Homo sapiens: one gene and its partners. The protein of the gene in region 5 purifies or fractionates together with the protein of the main gene of each other region. This does not show direct contact. Each region holds a gene or a part of one and is shown on either strand. Other genes may lie near its edges.

Region 1 (4,209 bases), on a different chromosome or scaffold from region 5:
CGGCTAATTTCTGTATTTTTAGTGGAGACGGGGTTTCACTATGTTAGCCAGGCTGGTCTCAAACTCCTGAGCTCAAGTGATCCAGCCTGCCTTGGCCTCCCAAAGTGCTGGGATTACAGGTGTGAGCCACTGTGCCTGGCTTATTTTCTTGTAATTCTTAAGTGAGACAACTATTTTTATCCTTTATTTCATAACTTGACTGTTTAAGGCTGTGTACTTTTCTTTGAGCAAAACTCTTATTACTATTTAAGAGAGTTGGCATTTTGTCTTAACTATGCTTGCTAGTAAGTGTCCCAAAATCTTCAGTGAGTCTAGTGTTGTTATTCACAGTAAAAATAAGATTAAAGGGAAAAAAAAGGTTCCAGAATATCATCTGTTCCCTCTCTCCTCTCCCTTTCTTAATGTACAGAGTTTTGGGGCTTAATATGATTAACTTCAAGATATGTTCTAGACACTGAAGTCTGTTAGGGTATTGAGTTTGATAATTATTAGTTCTACTACATCCTTACTTTTTACTGATTCAGCTGATAGGTATGAGTTAAAAACTCTTATTAGTACACTTACAAGCTAAGATTAATCAATATTTGAAGTCCTAAAACTTAGTCTAGAAATGCTTGATACCTATGTAATGCTTTGCACTTCTTCAGTTTCAGAATTAAACAATGTTAAATCAACAAGAATATTTAGATTAATGTACATGATTACATGATATTGTGACAATTTATGAATGTCAAAACCATTTTATTTTTACATACGGAGCACACAAAATATTTTAAATTCTAAAGTCACCACCTACAAGCTGTTTACACATGCTCCTTGACAGTACAAGCCAAGTTATTTGTGTACTTGAACAACAATAAAAATTTTGTCCATGTTCACTTTTACTGGAATGTTACTTGTATTACTTTCTGAAATTTTGCAAATAAAGGTTAGTTTATTTATGACTCTGTGTGAGAATGGGGACTGTTATTAAACAAGCAGAAAACTACAGCTAACAGAAGTTAACCATTTATTGACCACCATATCCAACTATTTTAAGAACATTACTGTACATTGAGATTCTCAGATTTAAAAAATAGGCCTAGATGGGGGAAAAAATGTTATGAAACCCTCCTGGACTTTACAGATTTAAAGCTTTTTCTCTAGTTTAATCCTACACACCAGGATGGTGTGAATATGTTCTTAATTTAGCAATAGAAGGATAATGTGCACAGCATTATTTGGTAGTACAGTTTAGACTTTTGCATGTTTACCTATACTGTGAACATGGTTAAATTTCTTTGCTAAACTGATCTTTATATTTTTATTCATTAATGTGGATAATTCTTTGCAATTTATTGCAAAATTTATTTACCATAACTTTACGCTTGTTTGCTACGTAAAACTATCTCATCATAAGGGAGCAGTTAATGAACTTGATTTTCAAGCAACTACAAGTGTCAAGCTTCTGTGACTAAGAAAACAGTGTAAAGTCTAAAACCTTATTATAATTTACAGCCTACATGGATCAGCATGATACAGATATGATCCTAGCACAAAGGTCTCTGCAAAAACTGGGGAGAGGGTGACTCCAATTCTCAAAGGATGTGAATTTCCACTAGTCAGCAGGTCTGAGTCAGCATTCAGAACAAGATCAGCCTGGGTCTAGTCCTAGTTACGACACTAGCTTGCCAATATAAAGACAAAGCAATATCTGATTTTAAAATCCACTGATCTGAGTTTGCTTTCATTTACCAAACGAGAGATCAGATGAGTCAACTCCTAGCTTGTTTTCCCCTGAGATGCGCTAAGGGTGATTCCAGTTCCAAAGCGGTAACCTGTGCTCTAAACCACTATGGGACCTCAAGAGTCCTAGCACCTTTTGATCCTATGGAATCCTTTCAAAGCACGGGCAGAGGCGGCTCAAAATGGCAAGGTCACTATACATTTCAAGGGCTTCTGTTTCAGAGATTACAAGTAGAGAAAAACAGAAGGTGGGAATTAAGATCAGCTAGGTAGAGCTGTGAGATGCAAAACAAAGGTTTTGCAGGAAGTTGAGGTGCTGACATACTCCATCTAGCTAAACTGAACACCAAATAATGGATGGAGACTAACACCACCAACACCATCGTCCCCGAAAATCCTTGTACAAGTGAGCTTCCTACAACGCGATGCAATATGCTGTCGCAGAACAAGCACTGCCAGGCTATGTAGCTGAACTTACCGTTCTCCAGGCGTCCATTTCCCCAACCTGTGAAAGGCGGGGAGGGGGTTGGACAAGATCACTAAGTCCTCTTCCGTTTCTGACACTTCACAGTCAGGGGTCCCGAGGTGAGGCCGAAATCCCAGTCTCCCGGGACGCAGAGGCCCTTGCGCGGTGCCATCCCCGCTGTCCCCCGGGCGCAGGCAGCTCCCGGCTCCTCCCCGCCCCTGCGGTTCCTGTGCACCAGGGAGGTGCCTCCCCAGCCCAGGGCGCGCCCGAATGAAGGGACAGCGCCTTCGCGGGAAAGGTCGCCCAGCAGCCGGACAAACACCCGCGGCAGGCGGGGGAGCCCGGAGCCGAGGAGGCTCAGAACTGATTCCGCCCGCGCCGCCTGGGTGGGGCCCGCAGGGACCGGGCCAGGGCAGCCGGAGCGCGCAGAAGACAGGGATGGGCCCCCAGGGCGGCAGCCTGCCCCAGCGGGCCCTTCAGCGCGTTTCCCCTCCCTCCAACCTCATGCGAAGAAAGCCCGGTGCTTCCCCACGCTCGTCCCACACTCACCCATCAGCGCCGGCGTCCCGCAGGACGGCTAGCGAGCCGGGGCCCGCGCAGGCGCAGACTGTGACCGACCCCGAGGTTGGGGCGCAGCGCGACGCGCTGGGCGCTGTTGGGGTCACGTGAGGGAGACACCGCCCCGCCCCGCCTCCCCTCCCTCGGCCCGCGGCCCGCCAGATGTCGCCAGCCTACTTCTCCTGGCCGCAGGCCGCCGCGGCGGGGCAGGTAGAGGGCCACGCCAGCACACCTGTCAGGATGCGGGCTCCGCTAGCCACCATGCTTCACCCTTGATGCCGTACGGTGGCCTCAGCGTGCCAGAAACAGCCAACGCGTTCTCTAGCGCGCTGCCTGCAGGGGGCGTCTGGGCATTGTCGGTTTTAGGGGCCTTGTCGGTTCTGCGGGGCGAGCGCCTTCGCGGAAAACTCCAAAGTACCCTCTGTGGAGCCTTGTTGAGTATCTTCAAACCTTCAGAGGGACCTTTTATCAGCGACCCATGCCGCAGTTTACAGAAGAACGCTTTGTGCGTGCTTTGGGACGTATGGATCACTTTTAAACTTTTTCCTTTGAAGCTCAGACAGCTTGCGGGGGGCTTGGGAGGAGCGCTGCCCGGGGAGTTAGAAGGCTTGGGTCAAAGTCATAGCCCTCATACTTCTTGAGAGTGACCTTGGGTGAGTCGCTGGACCCTGAGCCCCAAATCTCCGTCTGAAAAGTAACCCATGCCTTGTATGCGTCCTCGGGCTGTTGCAGGAGTCTTTGGAAATGATGGTTCTGACTCTGAGTTGGAAACTGGAACGCACACAACAGATGGGAGGCGTTGAAGGAAACAGAAAGGTCGGCCTGAGGGGAGAGGCGTTTCAGGAGGCTTGCGGATGTGTGAAGTGTGCGCACTGTGCTTGGGGCGAGCCCAAGCAGTAACCCCACCCGAGTGAAGCGTTCTTGGGGGGATCGGCTCCGGGTGGGCGACGTTCCCCGCGTGCCCCCTTCCCCCGAGAGCACTTTGTAGACACTGACTCCAAAAGCGGGTCTGGTCTCTGCCCAGCCCCACTTTGGCTGGCGTGCTTAGGTGCCTCTCGGGAAGCTGGAGACCACCCTCCCCCATTCCAGCAAACGCTCCATTGAGGAACCTACTGCGTGCCAGGTCCTGGGGAGCTTAGCGTCTGATGAAGGATACAACAACAAAAGACTGGAAATTCAGAAGCATGAGGGGACCTCCCCCCTCGAGGGAGAACCAGAGATGGCTTCACAGAGCAGACGTTTGAACTGGGCCTTGGAGGATGGATGAGTGGAATTTGGCCCAGTGGAGAAAGTCATAGCAGCAGGAGATAAGATTGTAAGGGTCAGGTGGTGGGGCTGGATAATGCGAATCTTGACTGTCAGACACAGACACCTGCCATCTAATTAGTACGCGAGGGATAAATTTTGGACTCCGCAGGATAAGGACAAGGCTACACAATGGCTTAGAACAGTTAATCGGG
Region 2 (3,500 bases), on a different chromosome or scaffold from region 5:
AGTTTTAATGGAATCCTTTCCTTTTTAAACACAAACAAACTTTGACAATCTGTACTTTGGTTAATTGCTGTGTTTGCATTTTCTTCCCTTATCCAGCCAATCAAAAACCCCCCAACAGGCAAGAAATATGTTAGATGCCCTTGTAATTGTCTTCTCATTTGTAAGGACACATCTCGGCGAATAGGATGCCCAAGACCCAACTGGTAAGAGATAAAGATTAATTCATTGATTCATTCATTTGTTCATTCAACAAGTATTTACTAAAGGTTCTTCAGTGCCAGGCTTTGTTCTAGAAAGAGTTTTTGTTTTCAAAGTCATTCCAGAATCTAGATTATTTTTTTGTTAAAGGAATGATAAGCTTAGTTTGAACTTAGTCATAGATATTTGTAGGATATAATATTCTTAAATGAGCAATGAATGTTTTCTTTGTGTTATGTAAGTACTTAATGCACTGTAATAAATCAATGACACATTGAACGTATTTAAAAATAATGAGGTCAGGCCAGTGGTTCATGCCTGTATTCCTAGCAATTTGGGAGGCTGAGGTGGGAGGATTGCCTGAAGCTGGTAGTTTGAGACCAAACTGAGCAACATAGTGAGACCCCATCTCTACAAAAAATTAGCCAGGTGTGACAGCATGCACCTATATTCCCAGTTACTTGGGAGACTGAGGCAGGAGTATCATTTGGGCCTAGGGATTAAAGCCTTCAATGAGCTATGACTGTGCCTCTGCACTCCAGCCTGGGCAACAGAGTGAGACCCCATCTGTTAGTCTCTCTCTTTTTTTTTTTTTTTGAGACAGAGTCTCAACGGGAAGAGTCTCAAAAGAGTTGGCTCACTGTGACCTCTACCTTCTGCCCTGAAAGCCTTCCCACTATAGCCTCCTCCTGAGTAGCTGGGACTACAAGCACACACCACCACTCCCAGGTAATATATTTTTTTTTTTTTTTTTTTTTTTTTTTTTGTAGAGACAGGGTTTCACCATATTGCCCGGGCTGTCTTGAACTCCTGGGTTCAAGTGATCCCAAAGTGCTGGGATTACAGGCATGAGCCACCATGCCTGGCCCATCTCTTAAAAAAAAAAAAGTAATCACTTAGTTTACTTTTGATATAATTAATCTTCACCTGCAAGTGTTTTAGTTATTTTTGTGTATCTCACTGTATATTATACTAATCTCTGCTGAATGTATATGTGCAATAAATTCTGGAATTATTCGCTCATGCCCAGTACCATTATGGATGTCCCCAGATACAAGTATATAAAGGCCTTACTTGTGTTTTTTTTCTGTGATCTCTCTAGCTTTTTGACCATTACATGAATCATGTACAGCCCTATCCAATGATAGACTAGAGAATAGAAATGAAAGCAGGATCCTGTTTGCTTTCTTTTCATCTCTGATTAAATACGCATCAAGGAATATCACACTGCTCAGAGAAATTTGGTTGTAACCCAGCCCTTCGGTGCCTTCATGGCACAGAGATTTTTGTTGGTATAGAATATTTTTAACTTAGTCTTCTACCAAACTCAAGTTGGCTTCCTAGATAAGGAAGGGTAACAACTGTTTTCTGATTTGAACTTACAAAAACTTGGAAATGACAGTTAAATGGTTGCCATTGATTAGGACCAATGCTATAATATATTGTTTCTATCCCAAGTACAGACTCATATTTTGCTTTTGAAAAACTGACTGTTGCTACTCTTTGTAGTTTTGCCTCCAGCTTGACATTTAATTCACTTAATTTATGAAACAAGTATAGCACATTTCATATTTTTGGCCATATGTTGCAGGTTTTGCTCTCAGTCCATTTGTGGGATAGTGAAGTTGTTTCCTTTCTCTTTTCACAGTAGACGGATAATTAACCTTGGCCCAGTAATGCTTATTTCTGAAGAACAACCAGCTCAGCCTGCATTGCCAATCCAACCAGAAGGTACAAGGGTCGTGTGTGGGCACTGTGGAAACACATTCCTGGTAAGTCACTGGACATTTGTCATTAATCTGTAAATATAGGTCATGATCTTACAGATTAGAGCACTGCTCATAGTCTTATAGTTTTGTCCAAATGCAAATTAATCAAAATATTAAAATAGAGACTTATTTAGGCAGACAATCAGAAGTGCAACTAGGATATAGAGCATCTTCTGTGAACTAGATAAAAGGTACGTCCTCTGATAAGTCCAGTTGCAAAAAGGATCCTCTCTATGTAGGCCAATGAGAAATCGTGCCCAGGCTTAGTTCCATGAGTATCTTGGCTTGGGGAGCAGCTGAGTCTTAGCCCTGCTCTCACCTGCTCAGCAGAGGTCAAAGTGCACAATCTCATGCAGTAGATTTGCTTCATGGCTTCTAGATTGAGGAAAAATTTGAATAATAATTTATCAAAAATTTTCTGACTTTTATAAATTATTCTTGGAGCAAAGGGAATTAACACTGTTACCCATAATTAGATAAAACCATTAGATAAAGAATAAGAAAGTATAAGTAATTTGATATGAGCAAAAGTTATAAAAGTTTTTGTTTTACTACTTCTAACTTAAACTTAGTTTGATTTTTTTTAAAGTTAAATTCATAATTAACTTACCCTGTCAGGAAGGATAAGGACAGGTTTTCTTTTATTGTTCAGCCCATATAGGAGACAAACATTTTCTTTAGAACTTGAATATGAAAAATATTTATCAGAGTATACACATGGGAGTCTAAACAAAACCTGCTGTCACTAAGACATGAATGAGCTTAAGAAAATATAAGTGGTTTGCTTTTTTTTATTTGTAATTTTACTTTTATTAAAGAACTTTATGTATATAGTTCTAAATGTCAAATGGGACTGCAATCTTCTCATCTAGCTGACCCCTAGTTACTGTTCCCAAAATGCTTTCAACTCTTTCAGCTACTTTATTGATAGTCACTTCTATGTGTTTATTTTTTATAATTTTTAAATTTTTATTTATTTATTCATTTATTTTTTGAGATGAAGTCTCACTCCGTCGCCCAGGCTGGAGTACAGTGGCGTGATCTCAGCTCACTGCAACCCCTGCCTCCCGGGTTCAAGCAATTCTCCTGCCACAGCCTCCCAAGTAGCTGGGATTATAGGTGCACACCACCACACCTGGCTAATTTTTGTATTTTTAGTACAGATGGGGTTACATAATGTTGGCCAGACTTCTATGTGTTTAAATTGCTTATCCTTTTTCTATTTGATTAAGCAATTTTAGACATTACCCACTAAATAGTAAACTGCAAAATGAGAACTTAGCACTTATACTGCCCTCCCACTCATATTCCTTTCCTTGCTTTCATACTCCCAGTCAAATTGCAACATTTTGTTTAATTAATACTTAGTGTTTACAATTTTTATGATTAGGTAAATTTTGTTCACAGCTGAACCAAGCAATGTGGTACATTTTTCTTGTGCATGCATTTTAACATTTTCTTGGACTTACAAATAATTGCCCCCTCCTTTGGATTTAATTTTCTATGTGTAAATCATTCATTCTTCTCATATTC
Region 3 (3,942 bases), on a different chromosome or scaffold from region 5:
ATGAATGTCTCTTGGCCTGAAACCCCCCACCTGCTCCCCAGAGCCACCTGGCCACCACAAGCCCTCACCCAACTTTGATGTTCCTGACCTTGTCACCACTCCCCAGCCTTGGACAGAGTGGTGGGCAACTGGTCCTTCAGGAAACTGTCATCCCCTGAACTGAAATCCATGCGAGGCAGGGTTCCAGACCCCCAGCTGGCTGACAGCAAGCCCCATCACCCCCCATGTCTCTCTCTCTCTGAAGCCTTACGGCTCTACTCACCTCTCTTCAGGGAGTCAGGGCCTGGGCCAGCACCTGCAAAGGAACAGAACCACCTTGTTAGCATCGTTCTGGCTCTTCTCTGTGCACCAGATCTTGCCTTGGAGACCATCCCGGCCAAGGAAGTCCCTGGTGTGATCACGCTCTCAGTCCTCCTGTGGCGGGTTTTGCATAGTCTCACAGGAACCCAGAAGTCCTCTCTGGAATCCTAGATTAGGCCTCAGGGTTGTTCACCCTCCAAAGCCCAGGAGTCGAGGACTTTAGCCCTTTGTCCTCTGGGGTTTCAGGAGCCAAGAACCCCAGCCCCCTCTTCCCTCTGACCCAAGAGTCCAGACCAGACCTCTGGCCCTCCATTAGAACCCAAGAGTTTACATCCCAGCCCCTCAACTCCAAAGTCCTGAACGGTACCAAGAGCTGGGGAAGGGCCAAAGTTTCCCATCCTTGCCATGATACTATTGCCCACACCAACATGTGTGTCCATGTCAGAACCCACGCAAGCCCACAACCCAAGTCTCTACATCTGGATTTCTATGAACATAGCAACATGATCTGTGTGCCCTCCGCCCTCTATGGGCACTTGGCCTGGCATATGGACACACTGTGTCCAGGGACCCCAGGCGGGACCCCAGTATACCAGAGGTCATGCCACATGGGCCTCAAACCCACTGAACCCAAGAGTAGGGACAGCCTTGTGCCAGGGCACAGACACATGTGTCTTTCACATACATGTCTGAACATACACAACCCCCAGAGACCAACACCAAAACACAAACAGACTCACAACATAGATGGATACATACCCTCAAGGTTGACACACCTGCATGCAACAATACATGTACAACACTGACTCTGCCATGCAAGTTCACACACACAAATGCACAGATACAACAGAGAAACTCATGTGCCCCCTAACAGACAACCAGGTACATGCATTTACAACAGATCTACCTTGCACACTCACCAGCACACAGGGGCACACACATCTAACAAACACACACACACCTGTGCAAACATACACAAGTGCACACTCTTAAATGCCTAGACACACTCATACTTCACACATCTCCATGTTGCAAAGTTGATACAGCACCACGCTAACAGATACATACCTCACACACACACACACACACACAAAACCACAAGCATACAGATACGAGGCTGATCCACACTGGAACACGCACACAGGCACAAAAAGATCCACCTTTGCAGACACGCCAAGATGTTCACTCATAACAGACACATGCTCACACAACAGTCCTGTGATTTACACACTTCCAAATGCATAGAAAATACTGAACCACAGTAGCACAGTCAGTAGACAGGCCCAGATTCACACTCACACAGTCTTGGACACACATTCCTCCCAGCCCTGAGGCACCCCCCCACCACCCCACCTACTTACTTCCCAGGCCCAAGAAATCCTAACATCCCTGCAGCACATTCAGCATCCTGCCCTCCACACCCCCAAAAAACCAGGGCAAAAGCCAGGCCAGAGGTCAGAGTTCAGCAGGTGGAAACTCAAGAGGATTTGGGGGTTTGAGTCCTAGATCACCGTTTCAAGGAGATCCTCCCACCAGCAGCCCCAAAGGTTCCCCAGCCTGGCCATCAGGATGGAGGTAACTCTGGCTCCGTCTGCAGATGTCTGGCCGGTGGGGGAATTAGGGTGGAGTGGGTGGGGAAGGGCCGGGTCTTCGCCCCCCAACCCCCACCTCAGGGCCCATCTGTCCATTTCTCGGCCTCTCATCCCCCCTCCATCTGTCCACCTCCTGGCCGCCCATCCCCCCCCCGCAACCACCGGGAAGGGGAAGACATGGCCGCTTCCCCCAGGACCGCTAAGGACCCCCCAGTTGACATGGACCGAGGGAGCGGCGAACTCCCCTCCCCCAAATCCACACCGAGGCCTGGGCGCCGAGCCTCAGCCCCCAAGCCAGCAACCTGCCGTGGACTCACAGATACACACCCTCGGAGACATACAACCCGCAGACACACACACACACACACACACACACACACACACACAAATGGACACCCGAGCGGGCACACCCGGCTCCACAGACCCGGGGATGGACATCCAACCCGGACACAAACACCCAGAGCAGCTAGTCGCGCACGCACATGGGCTTGGGGGGGACCCACACCTGGGCACACAACCCACGCACACACACACCTGCACACAGCCCCTCCGATGGGCGCGCGACAGCGCCCAGACACACAGCCGGAGGGGCGGCCGCTCGGGGGGACACGCGTGCACAGCCGGACACGCCGGCCGGGCTCGACACCCCGCGCACACCCGATGGCCACACGGGCAGGGCGCCGCACACGCCGGCACCGGGCACACATAGGGCCGCGCGGGCGCACGCCGGGCCCGCCGCAGCGCCACGGACACACACTCGCACGCTCGCACGCTCACACCCGCGCACACACCCGCGCCCCCGCCCGCCGCTCCCGGGCCGCTGCAGGCCGCGCTCACCCAGCCCGGGGGGGCCCCGGGCCCGGCCCCGCCGCCGCTGCCTCGCTCCGCGCCATGGTGGGGGGAGGGCCGGGGGAGGGGGCGCGGTGCCGCGGGGCCGCCTCCCTCCCGCCTCCCGCCCTCCCTCCCGAGCCGCAGCCGAGCTCCGCCCTCCGCGCCGCCCGCCGCCACCGCCGCCGCAAGGGGGGAGGGGGCGCCGACTGGTGGGGGCGGCCGGGCGGGGCGGTCGCACACCCGGGATCCCCGCCCCGAACCCGCCGCAGACCCCTCTCCACTGCCGAGCCGCCGCGGGCCCGCCCCCGACCCTTCCCCAGCCCCACCCCCAGCCCCGCCGGCCTCCCCGGAGACCCCCCCAGACCACGCCCCAACTGGCCTAGGGACCCCGGATCTCCCTACAGAGACCTCCCATCACGTCCTAATACCCAGGGGGACCTCGGATCAGGCCTCACCTCTTTTGAGAACCCAGGCGATGTTCTAGGGCCACCCAGGACCACAAATCATGCCCTGCTCTCCTGCTTGACCTCAGACTATGACCCACACACTGTCAGGAACCCCAGACCATGCCCCCAAACCCAGAAGAATCCCAGATCATATCCCAGCATCCAAGGGGATCCAGACCACCCCACCAGCAACCCTAAATCATATCCCAACATTCAGATAGACCCCCAGACCACACCCCTTCCCTCACGGACCCCAAATCATACCCTAACATCGGGGGAGACTTCAGACCATATGTCAGCCAAATCCCAGATGGTGCCTGACTCCCTTTGGGGACCCAAACCACATTCTACAGCCACCAGAACCACAAATCATATTCCACTCCTTCTTGGGGACCCCCAGCCATGTCCTTCTACCCTCAAGGACCCTAACCCATTCCCTTACCCCCAGTATGAACTCCAAACCATGCCTAACTTCTAGGGGGCCCTAAAATGTCTCTTATCCCTATGGAAGACCCTTAAACTTTCCCCATGAACCCCATTAGACCCCAAACCATCTTCCACCCCTTTGACCTTACACCTTTCTCTCTCCTTCTCCTCCAAGACATCCTTTGGTTTCCAAAACTCCCCAATTAGCCCCAATTTTTTCCCACCCCCTACTAGTCCTGCCCCCTTGAGGACCCTGCCTCCTTCTTGCTCCAGTTCTTTCTCTTGGACCCTGAAAGTCCCCCCTCCCTGTGACTTCCATAGAGCCCAGAATGCCTTGCTCCTTCCTA
Region 4 (3,500 bases), on a different chromosome or scaffold from region 5:
ATAGGTATAGTCTCTGGTGTAATCAGGCACAGCTACGCCTTAGAAGTTGAGTTACAGCTTAGGGAGATCGACCTTCCTAGCTTGAACTGTTTAAGTCCTTATCACTGTCAGTGTTTAAATTGCTGTTAGGGTTGTTATAGGAAGAGACATAAGGAAGGTGTGAGTTTGAACTGAGTGATTTGAAAGCCCCTTAGCTTTAGCAAGCTGTCTCAGATAAGGTTCTGGTGGGTCTGCATGGTGATAATTGACATGTTTTCCTTCAGTTAGAGATTAATTCGGCATTTCAAAACTTAGAATGCTTTGACCTTTGTTATAACAGTGGCTTAAGTCAGGCTGAATTCCTAATCTGATTCCACCTCCCCCCCTTAAAAAAATCCATGCTTTGAAGTGGGTCGAAGAGGAAGGTGTTAAACCCATCTTCAGATGATTGACCGCCCCAGCCTTCTTTTGCTTTGATGCTAAGTGCCTAAATGGAATTTTCAGGGAAACTTCAGATGTTTGAAATTAGTAATATATCTGGAGTGTACATGGTATGTAAAGATATCTACCACATAAAAAATACTTGGTTTAATTTTTTCCCTAATATACAGCACATAAGCCAAAAATCTGCAGTTTGACCTGCATGGGAAATTCATACTGATTGGCATTCCTTTCATAATATTAGTATGAAGTGAAAACATTTTCACAAAAGTGGTAAATTTTGTGACTATTGGTGCAGTTTGAGGTTTTAATGAGGAAGTAGTATCTTTATTTCCTAAGATTAGAGGTCACCCAATCCAAGATGGCAAGGCAGACTTTCAGCTGAATTTTACATTTTTTTCTTCCTTTTGAGATTAGAGCTATTTTCTATTTCTCTTCAATATCTGGGCCATGAAAAACAGGCTTTTTATTAATTTATATATATATATTTTTAGAGACGGGTCTCTCTCTGTCACCTGGGCTAGAGCATGTGGCGTGATTATAGCTCACTGTAGCCTTGAACTTCCGGGCTCAAGTGATCCTCTCACCTCAGCCTCCTCAGTAGCTGGGACTACAGGTGCCTGCTACCATATCTGGCTAATTTGAGAGAGAGAGTGTGTGTGTGTGTGTGTGTGTGTGTTTTTGTGTGTTGTGTGTGTAGAGACAGGAGTTTCATTATGTTGACCAGGCCAGTCTTGAACTCCTGGCCTCAAACAGTCCTCCTGCCTTGGCTTCCCAGAGTGCTGAGATTACAGGCATGAGCAAAACACACCTTTTTAAATAAAGGTTCTGTAATTTTTTTTTTTTTTGAGACAAAGTCTCGCTCCATCACCAGGCTGGAGTGCAGTGGCACAATCTCAGCTCACTGCAACCTCTACCTCCCAGGTTCAAGTGATTAGCCTGCCTCAGCCTCCCAAGTAGCTGGGATTACAGGCGCATGCCGCCACACCCAGCTAAATTTTTTGTATTTTAGCAGAGATAAGGTTTCACTGTGTTGCCCAGGCTGGTCTCGAACTCCTGAACTCAGGCAATCCGCCCGCCTTGGCCTCCCAAAGTGCTGGGATTATAGGTGTGAGTCACTGCGCCCAGCCAAAGTTTCTGCATTTCAAAAATAGGTCAATAAACAGAAAATGGCCAGGTTTTTCCTTTGTATTCGCAAGTTGTCATTGTTTATGCCAGAAAACCCAATTGTAAAACTAAAGGATGTGGTTTTGATTTTTACAGCAAGACAGTTTTCTTTATATTGTTAGTGTTTCATTTTTTATTTAGGAATTATCAAAATACAGATTGCTTATTTCCTAAGTTTAGAGCTCTCCCAACCCGAGATGGCAAGGCATCTTTTTTTTTGGGAGACGGAATCTCTCCCTGTTGCCCAGGCTGGAGTGCAGTGGTGCCATCTCGGCTTACTGTGCAGCCTCCGCCTCAGCCTCCCGAGTAGCTGGGACTACAGGCGCATGCTGCCACGCCCAGCTAAGTTTTTGTATTTTAGTAGAGATGGGGTTTCACTGTGTTGCCCAGCTGGTCTTGAACTCCTGAGCTCAGGCAATCTGCCCGCTTTGGCCTCCCAAAGTGCTAGGATTATAGGTGTGAGCCACCATGCCTGGCCTTTTTTTTTTTTTTTTTTTTTGAGACAGGATCTTGCTTTGTCGTCCAGGCTGGAGTGCAGTGACACAATCATAGCTCACTGTAACCTCAAACTCTTGTGTTCAAGCCATCCTCCTGCCTCAGCTGCCCAAGTAGCTTAGCTAGGACTACAGGTGTGTGCCACCATCCTTGGCTATTTTTAATTTTTTATAGAGATGGGGTCTTGTTGTGTTGCCCCAGCTGGTCTCAAACTCCTAGGCTCAAGCGATCCTCCCAAAGTGCTGGAATTACAGATGTTAGCTACTGCACCTGACTGCTTTATCATTCTCTAAGGAGAAATATATTTTACATCCTTCTGGAAGTATTAACTCATTTTCTTGAAAATAATAATCACTTGAATAGATACCCTCATTCTAGGTTTAGAAATACTGTTTTAGAAAAAGGAAAATTCTGACAACTTGTTAGGATTCCTGGGCTAATACGCAGTTTTAGTGGGGCTAAGCAATTTGTCTTCATCAGTGGAACTGAGTGAGTTTACAAATAAAAATCACAAAACAGAAGTAAGAATGCACTTGAGCTTCTATAGGTATAGATTTAACTGTCTTAGTGTTAGTCACCTTTTTGTGTTATGAGCATATATTTCTCTTCCAAAATTACCAACACAGAGGCTACCTATCTGAAACTCATTCTGAGGTAGGTTTAGTGAGATTATTCTAGATTAGAACATGCTGATGATGTTTGGCTTCTGCTTCATTGCAGATAGACATCAGATTTTTTTTGTTGTTTTGTTTTTAAAAATCAAATATATAATTTGTGTTTTACAATTTGTGTCTTTAAATTGGCTGCTTAGCTAAGGCGTTAATATATACAAATAGTCCTTTCTTTATTCATTTCCATTTTTTAGAATGGGAATTGATGACATTTTTGTTCTGAAAGTAGTCTTCTTAGTAATGTTTGGAAACTCTTGGAATGAGCTAAATTGAATTTCCAAAATTGCTATTACAGTTGACTTAGTACAACAAAGTGATTTTAAAGCCTGAATGCTCTACTTATTTCAAACAGTATTTAGTGCAATGAAACACCTGCACCAGTAAGGAATCTGACTAGTCCCTGGAAGTTTGTTAGGCTGCTATTTGGAAGAGGCTTTAGTTTGACAAAAATATAGATTGAAAAGAAAATGCAGCTAAGTGCTTTGTGTTTTTAAAATTCTGCTATTCAGAAATGCTCTAAATATCATTATGCTAATGAGGTTTTCAAAACAACCCTCATTATACTTTTAGAATTTTCTGAGCTATCTTACTGTATCTGCTCAACATTACTAAAGACTTGTTTACCAAAGATCCTTTTTTTATGTTTCCTTTTTTACCTGTCTCTATCATAACATATCTCACCTACCACATTCTGATTGGTATAACCAAGCAGGAGTAAGTAATTTGTAAAATTGCCTAATTGTGTGG
Region 5 (4,085 bases):
AATGAGTGGTCCAGCAACAGAAGCCTGTGAAGGAGGTCCAGGCCCGAGGGGGCTGGCCCACGGGGTAGGTGAGGGGCCTTTGACTCTTCCAGGTCACCCCACCCTGAGGGACCCAGAGGCATCCCTGCCCAGACATCCACACTCAGCTCAGGGTTCTGTGGCCTGGAATGGATGAGACAGCAAGTCAGCCTCCCTTGTGTTCTCTATCAACCCGCTTTGAGAGGCTCCCAGGGATTTTAGGGGGAATGGGGGGACTAGCCACTGACTGGAGATCCTGGGACCCAGAAACCATGGAATGTCATTCTTAGGAAGATCTGTGAGTTGTCCATTTTCTGCCACTGGGGGGGACAGAAAAAAAAGGACGACAACCAAAAGGGCTACGAATGGCTGGGCACGGTGGCTCACGCCTGTAATCCCAGCACTTTGGGAGGCTGAGGTGGGTGGATCACCTGAGGTTGGAAGTTCGAGACCAGCCTGACCAAAATGGTGAAACCCCGTCTCTACTAAAATTGCAAAAATTAGCCCGGCGTGGTGGTGTGTGCCTGTAATCCCAGCTACTCAGGAGGCCGAGGCAGGAGAATCGCTTGAACCGGGGAGGCAGAGGTTACAGTGAGCCAAGATCACACCACTGCACTCCAGCCTGGGCGACAGAGCGAGACTCTGTCTCAAAAAAAAAAAAAAAAAAAAAAGAAAAGAAAAGAAAAAAGAAGTCTACGAATTTGGAGCCAAATCAGCCCAGAGACACTGAACAGTGATACTAAGAGCAAGAAATTTAAGGGCTTAGAGATTTGGAGGAGGAGAGAATTAGAAGGCAACGGAGGGCTAGGGTGGTAGTTCACATCTGTAGTCCCAGCACTTTGGGAAGCTGAGGCAGGCAGATCGCTGAGCTGAGCCCAGGAGTTTGAGACCAGCCTGGGCAACACAGCGAAACCCTTGTCTCTGTAAAAAATTTTTAAAATTAGCCGGCTGTGGTGGTGTGTGCCTATGGTCCCAGCTGCTCAGGAGGCTGAGGTGGGAGGATGGCTTCAGCCTGGGAAGCAGAGGTTGCAGTGAGCCGTGAATGTGTCACTGCACTTTAGCCTGGGTGACAAAGCGAGACCCCCAGTCTCAAGAAAAGAGAGAGAAGGCAATAGAAGCATGAGAGGTTTTGAAGAGATACCAAGGAGCTCGGTTCTGAAGAATTTGTAACTCCAGGGATCTCGTGAGGAAGCCAGAACGAGGCAACTGGGGGCAAGCACTGAGAGGACCTGGGAGATGTGGCCCTGTGGAGTGGAGGAAGGGGTCAGTACCTGTGTGTGGAATTGTCTGCAGCTGGGGATGCAGCCCGTCCAGTCAGAGGCCCATGCTGTCCCAGGCGAAGCCCCTGAACTCGGCCTAGCCCCAGGCTGTGGAGAAGCCGCGCCAAGCCCCCTGCAGTCAGCGTCCCATTCTCGCCGTACAGGCCAAACAGCTGGGCCAGGTAATGGTTCTGCTCCTGCTCAGCAGGGCCCAGGTTGGGGACTGAGCCCCCTACCCAGCCCAAGACGACCCACACACAGAAGCCGGCCAGCAGATGACTCACTGGGGACCCCATCATTGGTGAGGGGAATAGCTTAGGGGCTCAGGTTCTGGCTCCTATTCTCCCCGAAACATCCTGAGGACTGTGCCCTGGAAGAATGAGGAATGGGCTGGAGCTGCGCTCTGCTCTCCAGCTCAGGTCCATGGGGGAGCCAGAGCTCCTTGCACCTGCTCCCCACCGAGTCCAGCAGCAGCCCCTACTGCAGCCTTCTTTCTCCCTTCACACTGCCTCCTGCGGGAGCAGCCTCTTGTTTGCTGGTTCCTGGAGCACCTCCCTGAGTCAGAGCTCTCCTCATACTTCATCCAGAGCTGACCGTCCATTCCTTGTCCCCTAAACCCCACCCCTCAACTTTGCCCCACCTCTTTATCCCCCCTCAATCCCCAGGGCCTCACCCCTACTGGCAACATAAGAGCTGTCACCTCAGGTCCCCTATTAGGCCTTGCTGTAGACGTTAAGCAGTTCCTGAGTCAGGGAAGGGGGAATCCAGGCTTAGCCTCCAGGTGTCCAGGTGGATCGGAGGCCACGTCACATAGAAGGCTGAGATGGACATGCACCCCCTCCTAGCCCACCTGCCTTGGGGCGGGGTCAGGGGTGGGGCCAGTGTGTGAAGGCTCACATAAGAGAGGAGTTAATGGTTCACTGGTCTCTGGGGTAGGGATCAAAAGTCAGTCTCTGCTGGGCCCCTGGGTAGGGAGGGGCCACCCTCTGCCCTGGGAAAGCCACATGGCTAAGGAGAACCTGGGCCTAGTCTTTTTCCTCTTAAATAATTCACCCTATCCTTAACACCATTAGTACCATTTTAGCCCTTTCCCTCATGTACTTCCACCCCACCTACCTTACAGTCTAGCACTAAACTTCATCTCCAACCCCCATCCCCATATTCCTTGGGAAGGTTGGACCCAGGTGTCCCTAACCTGGGGAGGAGGGGGGAAAAGGCAGATCAGTGGCAAGCCCAGATGCATGCATGGGAAATAAACTGTTCTTAGCAGTTTCTCACCCCAAGAAGAGAAAGAGCCAGAGCTCTAGGGATCGATGACCAAGAAAGGGGAAGCCCTGCGGGGGGAGAGGAAACAAGGATCTGGGCTCTCCTCTGATGTCTGACCTGGCCTAAAATCAGGCAAGCAAAGTCTGATCGGGGTGACTGGTCCAGGGGGTTGAGGTTGGCATTACCTGATAGCAGGAGACAAGGACACCCAGAGGAAGGGGGACACAACCTTCTTGGTTCCAGCTGGGGGGGCAGGCAGGCAGGCGGGCAAGGGTCACCTGCAGGGAGGGGGTAGGGGAGGGACACTACCTTAAAGGGGCAGGTCTGCTTTGCCTGGGCCTCCTTACCTGTAACCTATTTTCCTTCCACCTTCTAGGGACACCCCACCTTCCCAAATGCCTAGTTGCTAACCTCTTCCTTTTCCCACAGAAAGCAAAGGAGTCCAACACAGAGTAGAGTGGTAACATTTATTAGGAAGGAGAGACTTCAGTTAGACTCCCATGTCTCACACAGAAGAAACAGATGGTAACTGCCATTTCTTTCTTTCTTTCTTTCTTTCTTTCTTTTTTTTTTGAGATGGAGTTTCGCTCTTATTGCCCAGGCTGGAGTGCAATGGTGCAATTTCGGCTCACCTCAACCTCCGCCTCCCGGTTTCAAGAGATTCTCCTGCCTCAGCCTCCTAAGTAGCTGGGATTACAGGCATACGCCACCATGCCTGGCTAATTCTGTATTTTTAGTAGACACGGGGTTTCTCCATGTTGGTCAGGCTGGTCTTGAACTCCCGACCTCAGGTGATCCGCCCACCTCGGCTTCCCAAAGTGCTGGGATTACAAGCGTGAGCCACTGCGCCCAGCCAGTAACTGCCATTTCTAAAGAGGAAAGAGAGCAGGCAGAGGGTCCTGACTCCCAGGGGACAGGTAGTTCAGCTGGACAATGAGGGAGTATGAGATTAGGGTGGATAAGGACACTGCTCACCACCCTCCACTGAAGTTCAGTGGCTAAAATACTGCTACACCAGCCAATCAGTGGAAGGCTATCTTGCTCTCCAGGGGACACTTGGGATGTGGTTGGTGGCAGGAAGAAAGAATGTCATGCTATCTCTTGCTGCTCCTCCGGGTTTCTTTGCCGTTACTAACAGGGTTGCTGGAAGGGCCAGGCGGGCCTGCAGGTGTGTGGTTGGGCTGGCTTCGAGTGATTCGGGTGCTGGGTGGGTGGGAGGGAGTATGAGGGGGATGTGGGCCACCACCGGGACCTGGTGGGGCACTCAGTCCATTCCCATTCTGGTTCTCAGAGGCTAATTGTGGGAGGAGAAGAAACAAAGGAATTAGTTAACATAGGAGAGGGGTCCATCCCAAGGCCTGTCTCCATGCCCCAAAGAGTGGCACAGTCTTCACCATGCACAACTGCATCTTAATGCCAACTGGACCAAATGCAAAAGACTGTGGGCTGCGAGTATGAATGGAGCTCCAGAGAAGACTTACACGATCATTTAGGAAGTTGCTACATGAACCTCGGTACGGTATTTTTCTCTTGTAGTTATCT
Region 6 (4,091 bases), on a different chromosome or scaffold from region 5:
GAGGGCAGTGACCACACAGCCTCAGAGCTGCCCATCACAGGGTGGGCTCCTCACCCTTTAGGTCATTAGGAATATAGGCCCCACAGTGAGAAGACACAGGTGGGTCTCCTGGGATGGGCAGGAGCAGGGCCACAGGGAACCAAGAAGCTGCACAAGCAGTTGGCCCCGATCCCCAGGACACTACATGGCTGCACCCCCTCACCCTTAGCTCACACCTGAGGCTTTAAGGAGGGTCCCTGATTGCCCTGAGGGACCTATGATGCCACCCAGCAGCAAAGGAGGGGCGCAGTAGGCCCAGAACCATAGGACCTCCATTCACATCCATCACATCCACACCACCCAGAAGCCACAGGCAGGGTAGGACACACTTGTGACTCTTCAACTTACACTACTTGGAGATGACACCCTAGGGGATGGGGCAGCAATTGCCAGGACACAGCATGTGCCCTCATCTGGGGTCAGCAACCTAGGACAGGGTCCACATCTGCTCTCCCTTTTATTTGCAGGTTACCATTGCCTGCTGTTGCTCTACAAAGGGACAGGACTTGACACACAGACAGAGAACTCACGGCCAGCAAGGACCAAAGTGCCTTCAGCCTTTCCTTTCTAGAAAGGGTTTGCTGACTCCTGTCTGCTTAGTGACTATTCTATATGACCCTGGCTCCCCAGTCGGAAGAACAGGCGGGTCTGGGACCCAAGGGCAGAAGTGGGCACCTCTACTCACCGGCGCTCCCAGGGTCATCGTGAGGGAAATGGGATTTCCCGTCCCCCCTGCATTAAGTTTTGTGGAAAGCCTGGGGTGTGTTTGCTGGGGTGTGTCCTCAGGCAAAAGGGGACAAGGTGCTAGTTGGTCGGGGGAGGTGCTAAGGGCCCCTTCATGGATGGGGAGGTGAGGGAGGCCTGTGTGGTGACAGGGGTGAGCTGAGATGGGGAGTGAAAGGATGCGACCTGGGTGGTGAAAGTGAATGGTGAGGGGAAGGGTAGCAAGTGTCTGGTGAGCCCCTGCGTGCAGGTGAGTGTCTGCAGCAAAGTGTAGGGGCGAAGTTCCAGGGCAGGGAGCCCTGGGGCTGCTGGAAGCTTTGTGTGGTGAACAGCAGGTCAGAGCAGAGCAGGGCTGTGGCTGATGGGGGAGTCTGTGATCGCGTCCCTGTGGAACTCCCCTTTACCCCTGTCCTGACCCCAGCTAGGGTTCGGGAATCTGGTTTCTCCTTCCCTAGGGCCAGTGGGGCTGCGGGTCTGCACCAGGGATCCCCGCCCTACCTTGCCCTCTGTAGCCTTTTGGTCCCTCCACCCTCCTGCAATTCCTTTTCAGCCTTCTTTGACACTCCCCCTGGACTGCGGTGCTAGCAGCAGCTGCAGGAAGCGGACTCGGCGGAAAGGAGCCCCGGAGGGGAACTGAGTGCCTTCAGCCAGGCACGTTCGGGGAGACAGCGATGTTCGGGGAGACCGCGATGTTCTGGGGGATCGCGATGTTCGGGGAGACCGCGATGTTCGGGGAGGCCGCGATGTTCGGGTAGACCGCGATGTTCTGGGGGATCGCGATGTTCGGGGAGACCGCGATGTTCGGGGAGGCCGCGATGTTCTGGGGGATCGCGATGTTCGGGGAGACCGCGATGTTCGGGGAGGCCGCGATGTTCGGGTAGACCGCGATATTCGGGGAGATCGCGCTGGTCCACCCAGAAGCCTCCTGGCCTATGGGGCAAGCAGCAGCCGCAGGAAGCGGACCCGGAGGAAAGGAGCCGCGGAGGGGAACTGAGTGCCTTCAGCCGGGCATGTTCGGCGAGATCGCGATGTTCGGGGAGATCGCAATGTTTCGGGGGATCGCAATGTACGGGGAGACGGCGATGTTCGGGGGTACCGCGATGTTCGGGGGGACCGCGATGTTCGGGGAGACCGCGTTACTCGGGGGGACGGCGATGTTCGGGGGGGATCACGATGTTCGGAGGGATCGCGATGTTGGGGTAGAACGCGATGTTCGGGGGCATCGCGCCGGTGCTACCAGAAGCCTCCTGGCCTGCGGGGCAAGCAGCAGCCGCAGGAATCAGACCCGGCGGAAAGGAGCCGCGGAGGGGAACTGAGTGCCTTCAGCCGGGCATGTTCGGCGAGATCGCGATGTTCGGTGAGATGGCAATGTTCGGGGAGATCGCGATTTTCGGGGAGACCGCGATGTTCGGGGAGATCGCGTTGCTCGGAGAGAGGGCGATGTTCGGAGAGGCCGCGATGTTCGGGGAGACCACGATGTTCGGGGAGACAGCACCGGTCCTTCCAGAAACCTCCTGGCCTGAGGGGCAAGCAGCAGCCGCAGGAAGCGGACCCGGCGGAAAGGAGCCACCGAGGGGAACTGAGTGCCTTCAGCTGGGCATGTCTGGGGAGATCACGATGTTCGGGGAGATCGCGATGTTCGGGGAGACAGCGATGTTCGGGGGCACCGCGATGTTCGGGGAGACCGCGACGTTCGGAGGGACCGCGACGTTCGGGGAGACCGCGATGTTCGTTCAGGGAGATCGCGCCGGTCCTTCCAGAAGCCTCCCCTCCTCTGAAACCCGCTGCAGTCCACAACCTCCCAGGTTTGGCCCCCGCCCTGCTTAGGCTACATCCCCGAACTCACCGACCCATCCTGCCCGGGACCAGCCAGACAGCAGGTGCAGAAGCGGGAGGCACAGAAGGAACGCGGGGCTGGCGGCCGCTGCCATTGTAGACCTGGAGCTCCGTGGACAGGAGGCGCTGATGGTTCCCTTCGAGGCTCACACCACGGCTGTTTATAAAGCTGCCCAGCCCGGCCCGCCGCGCGCAGGGATACACTGGGCGGGATCCTAGGCATGCACTTTTTTGGGGATGCTCCACCCCGTCACGCCCCGGGCTCGTCATCTGACAGCGGCCTGGCTGACGCAACTCTCCCCTCCGACCCGCCCCCGCGGCTTGGTGGCGGCGTGCGCGGGCCCCGAGCGGGCCAGGACGCCGTTCCTTCCGTTCCTTCCATGGCCCCATCAAATAATTTTTCAACACAGCATTTATCATTACCCCAGTGTAAACACTGATGCACAGGAAGATGAAGAAACTTGCATAGGAATACTCAGTGGCGGCGGTGTCTCCCTGTCACCGCCTGCGCCAGCGACACCCGCCCTCCCTCCGCCTGCAGTCGCGAAGTCCCCGCCCCTCTCCGTCCAGGGCGCAGCCGCTTCCCCATTCCGGAGCGAACCTTTTTTGCCTCTCCACTAAAAGCATGAGGTGGTCTTTGAGTATATTCTATATCCCTTTATGACTTCTGGAAAAAAAAAAAAAGAAAAGAAAGAAAGCCCTAGAGGGCTACCGTGATCAATCATGATGTGATCAGTTGTGTTTCCATGGAGAGCAGAAGCCGAGGGAAGAGTCTACGCATGCGTGGGGCTCACTTTGCTACACACCCTTCTGTGTCTAACAACACCCAAATCCGTGGCTGTATCTGCACCTCGGCTCAGTCCCTGGATGGTCCCTGCAGCCATCCTCAAAAGGGACGCCCGAGTGCATCCTCCTCTGAGTCACCATGAAACCATCTAGATCTGCGGGTAGAAGCCAGAGGGAGGTGGAGGGCCCAGTGGCTCTTGGCCGCAAGGGAGGGCTTAGCCTGCAGTAAGGACTGGGCAGAGCCCCTGAGTCCCACTTTGCCCCCAGCCACTCAGCCCATTCCCCAATGAATGAGAAAAATAGGCACAGACCTCCCACTCCACACAGTCTTCATGTGGGGAGACCTTCACCTGGTGACCATCAATCACCAGGGTCCTGAGGCTGTGGGAAAGGGGAGGAGGCCTGGACCAAGCCCAGGGCCTGACTATGCTTCAGGACAGGGACATGGGATGGCAGCCATCTCTGTGACTGAGCAGGGACACAGGAGCCAAAAGGTTCTGGCCTGATGCACTAGAGCCTCTGTCCAGGAGGGGCTACATGAAGGGTGGTCGGCAGGACAACAGTCACACGGGGGTGGGCAGTTCTCAGATTTGGGAGGGGAATAGCTTGGTGGGCCCAGGGATCTGTGTGTGAGAAAAGCCTCCCATGTACAGGGCTGGGGGCAGGAGCTCAGGTTAGTCCTAGGAGGAGGCCACTGGGAAGTCCCT
Region 7 (2,784 bases), on a different chromosome or scaffold from region 5:
ATATCACCTTCCACCTTGAGGAAAGATGAAGCATTGGTTTAAGTGGCTGAGAAAAACCTGGGTCTGTTCTCCTGGGTGATCCTTCCCAGGCCCTCCCCATTTCAGAGCTTCTCCCCCAGATAAGGAACATGTTTTTCCCTCCAACCCTACCCCTGGCTGTGCAGCCTTTCCCAACCTCCACCCTCCTTCACCACACCACAGAGGCAGCCCAGGTCCTGTTACAGCCCATAGGGGCTCAGACCTGAGGCTGGTAATGAGGGGTCTGCACCCTCACTCAGGGCCTGCTCCTCCCTTTCATAGAAGGGTCTAGAGGACCTGGGGGAGCCCTGTCCAAAGAGAGGTCTCTGGATCCATGTTCCCTGGCCTTGGGTGGGTTTGTAGGCAAACCTTCTTTCTCCTTCGCTCTCAGCCTCTCCTCACCCTGGGAGCTGCACCCATAGCTCTGAATGGGACTGTCCCTGCCCTGCCCCATTCATTCCTGGCCAAGCTCAGTGGTGACCACGGACCTCTAGCAGCAGCTCAGCTGCCCTAGCTGAGTCCACTCTGCTCCAGGCAGGGCCATCAGCTGGCTCAGGATCTGGAGTGTGCACGAGGCAGAATGGCAGTGGCATCGTCCCAGGGCCTAGCCAGGAATCCCATGGGTCCAAGGGGCTCGGCCATTTCCTAAACCTCATCCTGGACACGCTCTACTCTTCACCTTCCACCTTAACTGCTGGGACTCAAGGTGCTCTCTCTGGGAATGCAGCCTTAGGAACTGGGTGGGCCAAGGCCCTCACAGCCCCCTCGTCCTGGGATTCCCCCAGGTTTCTCTCTTCTTAGCCTCCTCCAGGGACACCCCTTCCCTTGACATCCTTGGTGAAGTGGCCATGCTACTCCTCTCCTACTGTGCAGACTGCCCATGCCTGAGTTCCTGCTGCCTGCAGGCCACACACCACTACCCTTCCCAGATAGAAACCTGCTGTGAAATAGGCCTGAACTGTCTAAACCCTCTTGAACTCAACCGGCCCTGAGCCTTGATATGGGTCCCTCCCTTTCCCTCTGGCCCTGATGGTGAGAATCCATCAGAACTCAAGGTTGAGCTGCCCAGGTCATTGCAAACAGGCGACACCAGGTCTCATTCACCTGTCTCATGTCAGAACGAGAAGGTCCCGGCCATGGGGAGAGGTGGGACTCTGGAAATTCTCCTTTCCCTTCCTCCCACCTCACCCATCTGTCTCTCGTTCCCCTCACAGTTTTGCCCACAGTACCTGTCACTCTAAATGACTCTTCTCAGATGCCAGGGAGGATGAAGCAGAGGATGATGAGGAAGCTCCAGGGACTGAGGGTGGTGGCTATGGCTTTGGGTTGAGCTAAGCCTGGGGCCATGGTGGGTGGTGCTGAAAGGGAAACACAAAAGTGACAACTCTTGTCCACGCTCCAAATCTGAGGAGATGGCTCCTTAGCTCCTGCTACCCCAGGTCATCCGGGAAGGCAGAGGATTTGTCTCCCCTGCTGTGGGGCAGCCGCTGTGACAGGTCCTGGGGGTAGGAAGGGAGAAGGGGTGCTCCCTGTCCTCAGGGAGCTCACACAGCTGCTGAGGGAAGCAAGGTGACAGCACAGCCCACCCTCCTGCTGTGGCGGAAGAGGAGGTGATGCCCTAGGGCCGGGACAGGAGAGTCTCGGGGCTGCCATTCGAGGTGGTTTTGATGGATTTCCAGAAACAAACCAAGGGAGAGGAAAGGAAAAGTGATCCTAGGAGGAGGGAAATCTAAGGAGAAAGGTCTAGAAACACAATGACGCCCACAGTTTTGAGGCTGGTGAGAAATCCACAGTGAGTGGAGCAAAAGCAAGTGCAGTGAGGAAGAGGAGTCAGGAGGGAGAGCATAGGCACCCCAAGGAGGAGGCCCCCATGAGGGGTTCATGTTCTTACACTCACTCAAACACACACTCACACTCACACATACATAGACTCACACCCACTCACACCCATACACCCACACCCACCATACTCAGACACTGACAGACAAGGGTGTAACTCGATGGCATCTCCAACATGCTCCCAGTGCTCCCCTGTCAGTTACCTGTGGGTTCCAGCCTCTTCTTCCTGTGCATCAGGAAGTCCCTAAGCCAGCTCTTGCAGTCTCTCATTGAGACCATCTTGAAGAAGGTGGTCAGTCCGCTATCCTTCTCCCACTTCTCTTTCATCCGCCTGGCTCCAGCGTGAACCACTGTCCACTTTCTGTTGTTTGAGTCAAAGAGGAGGAACTTCCGTCCATCGAAGCTGAACTGCCAAGATCCACGGATGTATCCATCGGCTTCACACTCACAAGACATCCTGACCTGCAGCGTGAGGGGTCCTGCCCCAATCAGAAAGAGATCAGCCCTGGTGTTTACAAATTCTCTTCCCTGTCCCACATCCTCCTATGCTGAGACCATTCTCATCTGGTCCTGTTGTCTCCTCCAAGTCCTGCCCTTGCTGCTGGGCTTCATGGAGGTCCCATGTCTAATTTCTTCTCCCCACACACAGAACAGCCCCTGAGCCCACAGTCTGCTCCCTTCTGTCCTTGGTCTCTTTCACTCACCACTGGGTGTGAAATCCTCCAGCTCAGTGTCAGCCAGTTCCAGTCTGAGCCTCTGCCCCACCTCTCTCAGCATTTCCAGTTGTTTTCCCCAGGCATCTGTGGCATACAGCTGCTCTTCTAGGTGACCCATAGATAAGACCTTGTCACTGCCACAGTCATAGGAGAGAAAATTCTTCTGATCCACCTGGCTCTGGACCTCACACCACTGTTGCCCATGTCTGGG

The links.
Region 1: the proteins of SLC39A5 (region 5) and SLC25A51 purify together in Homo sapiens (affinity purification with mass spectrometry; 2 studies listed by BioGRID and IntAct, with this or other methods). This does not show direct contact.
Region 2: the proteins of SLC39A5 (region 5) and PIP4P2 purify together in Homo sapiens (affinity purification with mass spectrometry; 3 studies listed by BioGRID and IntAct, with this or other methods). This does not show direct contact.
Region 3: the proteins of SLC39A5 (region 5) and LRFN1 purify together in Homo sapiens (affinity purification with mass spectrometry; 3 studies listed by BioGRID and IntAct, with this or other methods). This does not show direct contact.
Region 4: the proteins of SLC39A5 (region 5) and METTL9 purify together in Homo sapiens (affinity purification with mass spectrometry; 3 studies listed by BioGRID and IntAct, with this or other methods). This does not show direct contact.
Region 6: the proteins of SLC39A5 (region 5) and ULBP1 purify together in Homo sapiens (affinity purification with mass spectrometry; 2 studies listed by BioGRID and IntAct, with this or other methods). This does not show direct contact.
Region 7: the proteins of SLC39A5 (region 5) and ULBP3 purify together in Homo sapiens (affinity purification with mass spectrometry; 3 studies listed by BioGRID and IntAct, with this or other methods). This does not show direct contact.

Annotation. Positions count from the first base shown.
Region 1 is NC_000009.12:37,901,328-37,905,536, forward strand, and holds the start of SLC25A51 (mitochondrial nicotinamide adenine dinucleotide transporter SLC25A51), read right to left. Parts: upstream 2,801-4,209; 5' UTR 2,741-2,800; intron 2,231-2,740; exon of another isoform or gene 2,204-2,230; intron 1-2,203. UniProt on the Homo sapiens protein: Mitochondrial membrane carrier protein that mediates the import of NAD(+) into mitochondria. Mitochondrial NAD(+) is required for glycolysis and mitochondrial respiration.
Region 2 is NC_000008.11:91,016,860-91,020,359, reverse strand, and holds part of PIP4P2 (type 2 phosphatidylinositol 4,5-bisphosphate 4-phosphatase), read left to right. Parts: intron 1-96; coding exon 97-203; intron 204-1,846; coding exon 1,847-1,970; intron 1,971-3,500. UniProt on the Homo sapiens protein: Catalyzes the hydrolysis of phosphatidylinositol-4,5-bisphosphate (PtdIns-4,5-P2) to phosphatidylinositol-4-phosphate (PtdIns-4-P).
Region 3 is NC_000019.10:39,318,064-39,322,005, forward strand, and holds the start of LRFN1 (leucine-rich repeat and fibronectin type III domain-containing protein 1 precursor), read right to left. Parts: upstream 2,801-3,942; 5' UTR 2,730-2,800; exon of another isoform or gene 2,427-2,729; intron 296-2,426; 5' UTR 263-295; intron 1-262. UniProt on the Homo sapiens protein: Promotes neurite outgrowth in hippocampal neurons. Involved in the regulation and maintenance of excitatory synapses. Induces the clustering of excitatory postsynaptic proteins, including DLG4, DLGAP1, GRIA1 and GRIN1.
Region 4 is NC_000016.10:21,620,077-21,623,576, forward strand, and holds part of METTL9 (protein-L-histidine N-pros-methyltransferase isoform 1 precursor), read left to right. Parts: intron 1-3,500. UniProt on the Homo sapiens protein: Protein-histidine N-methyltransferase that specifically catalyzes 1-methylhistidine (pros-methylhistidine) methylation of target proteins.
Region 5 is NC_000012.12:56,228,766-56,232,850, reverse strand, and holds the start of SLC39A5 (zinc transporter ZIP5 precursor), read right to left. Parts: upstream 2,801-4,085; 5' UTR 2,729-2,800; intron 2,612-2,728; 5' UTR 2,556-2,611; intron 2,135-2,555; exon of another isoform or gene 2,021-2,134; 5' UTR 1,978-2,020; exon of another isoform or gene 1,951-1,977; intron 1,648-1,950; 5' UTR 1,577-1,647; coding exon 1,290-1,576; intron 163-1,289; coding exon 1-162. Other genes in the region: NABP2 (SOSS complex subunit B1), read right to left, coding at 3,638-3,837. UniProt on the Homo sapiens protein: Uniporter that transports zinc(2+) into polarized cells of enterocytes, pancreatic acinar and endoderm cells across the basolateral membrane and participates, notably, in zinc excretion from the intestine by the uptake of zinc from the blood into the intestine.
Region 6 is NC_000006.12:149,962,652-149,966,742, reverse strand, and holds the start of ULBP1 (UL16-binding protein 1 isoform 1 precursor), read right to left. Parts: upstream 2,801-4,091; 5' UTR 2,694-2,800; coding exon 2,609-2,693; exon of another isoform or gene 1,261-2,608; intron 1-1,260. UniProt on the Homo sapiens protein: Binds and activates the KLRK1/NKG2D receptor, mediating natural killer cell cytotoxicity.
Region 7 is NC_000006.12:150,063,338-150,066,121, forward strand, and holds part of ULBP3 (UL16-binding protein 3 precursor), read right to left. Parts: coding exon 2,562-2,784; intron 2,337-2,561; coding exon 2,061-2,336; intron 1,377-2,060; coding exon 1,270-1,376; 3' UTR 1,248-1,269; intron 15-1,247; 3' UTR 1-14.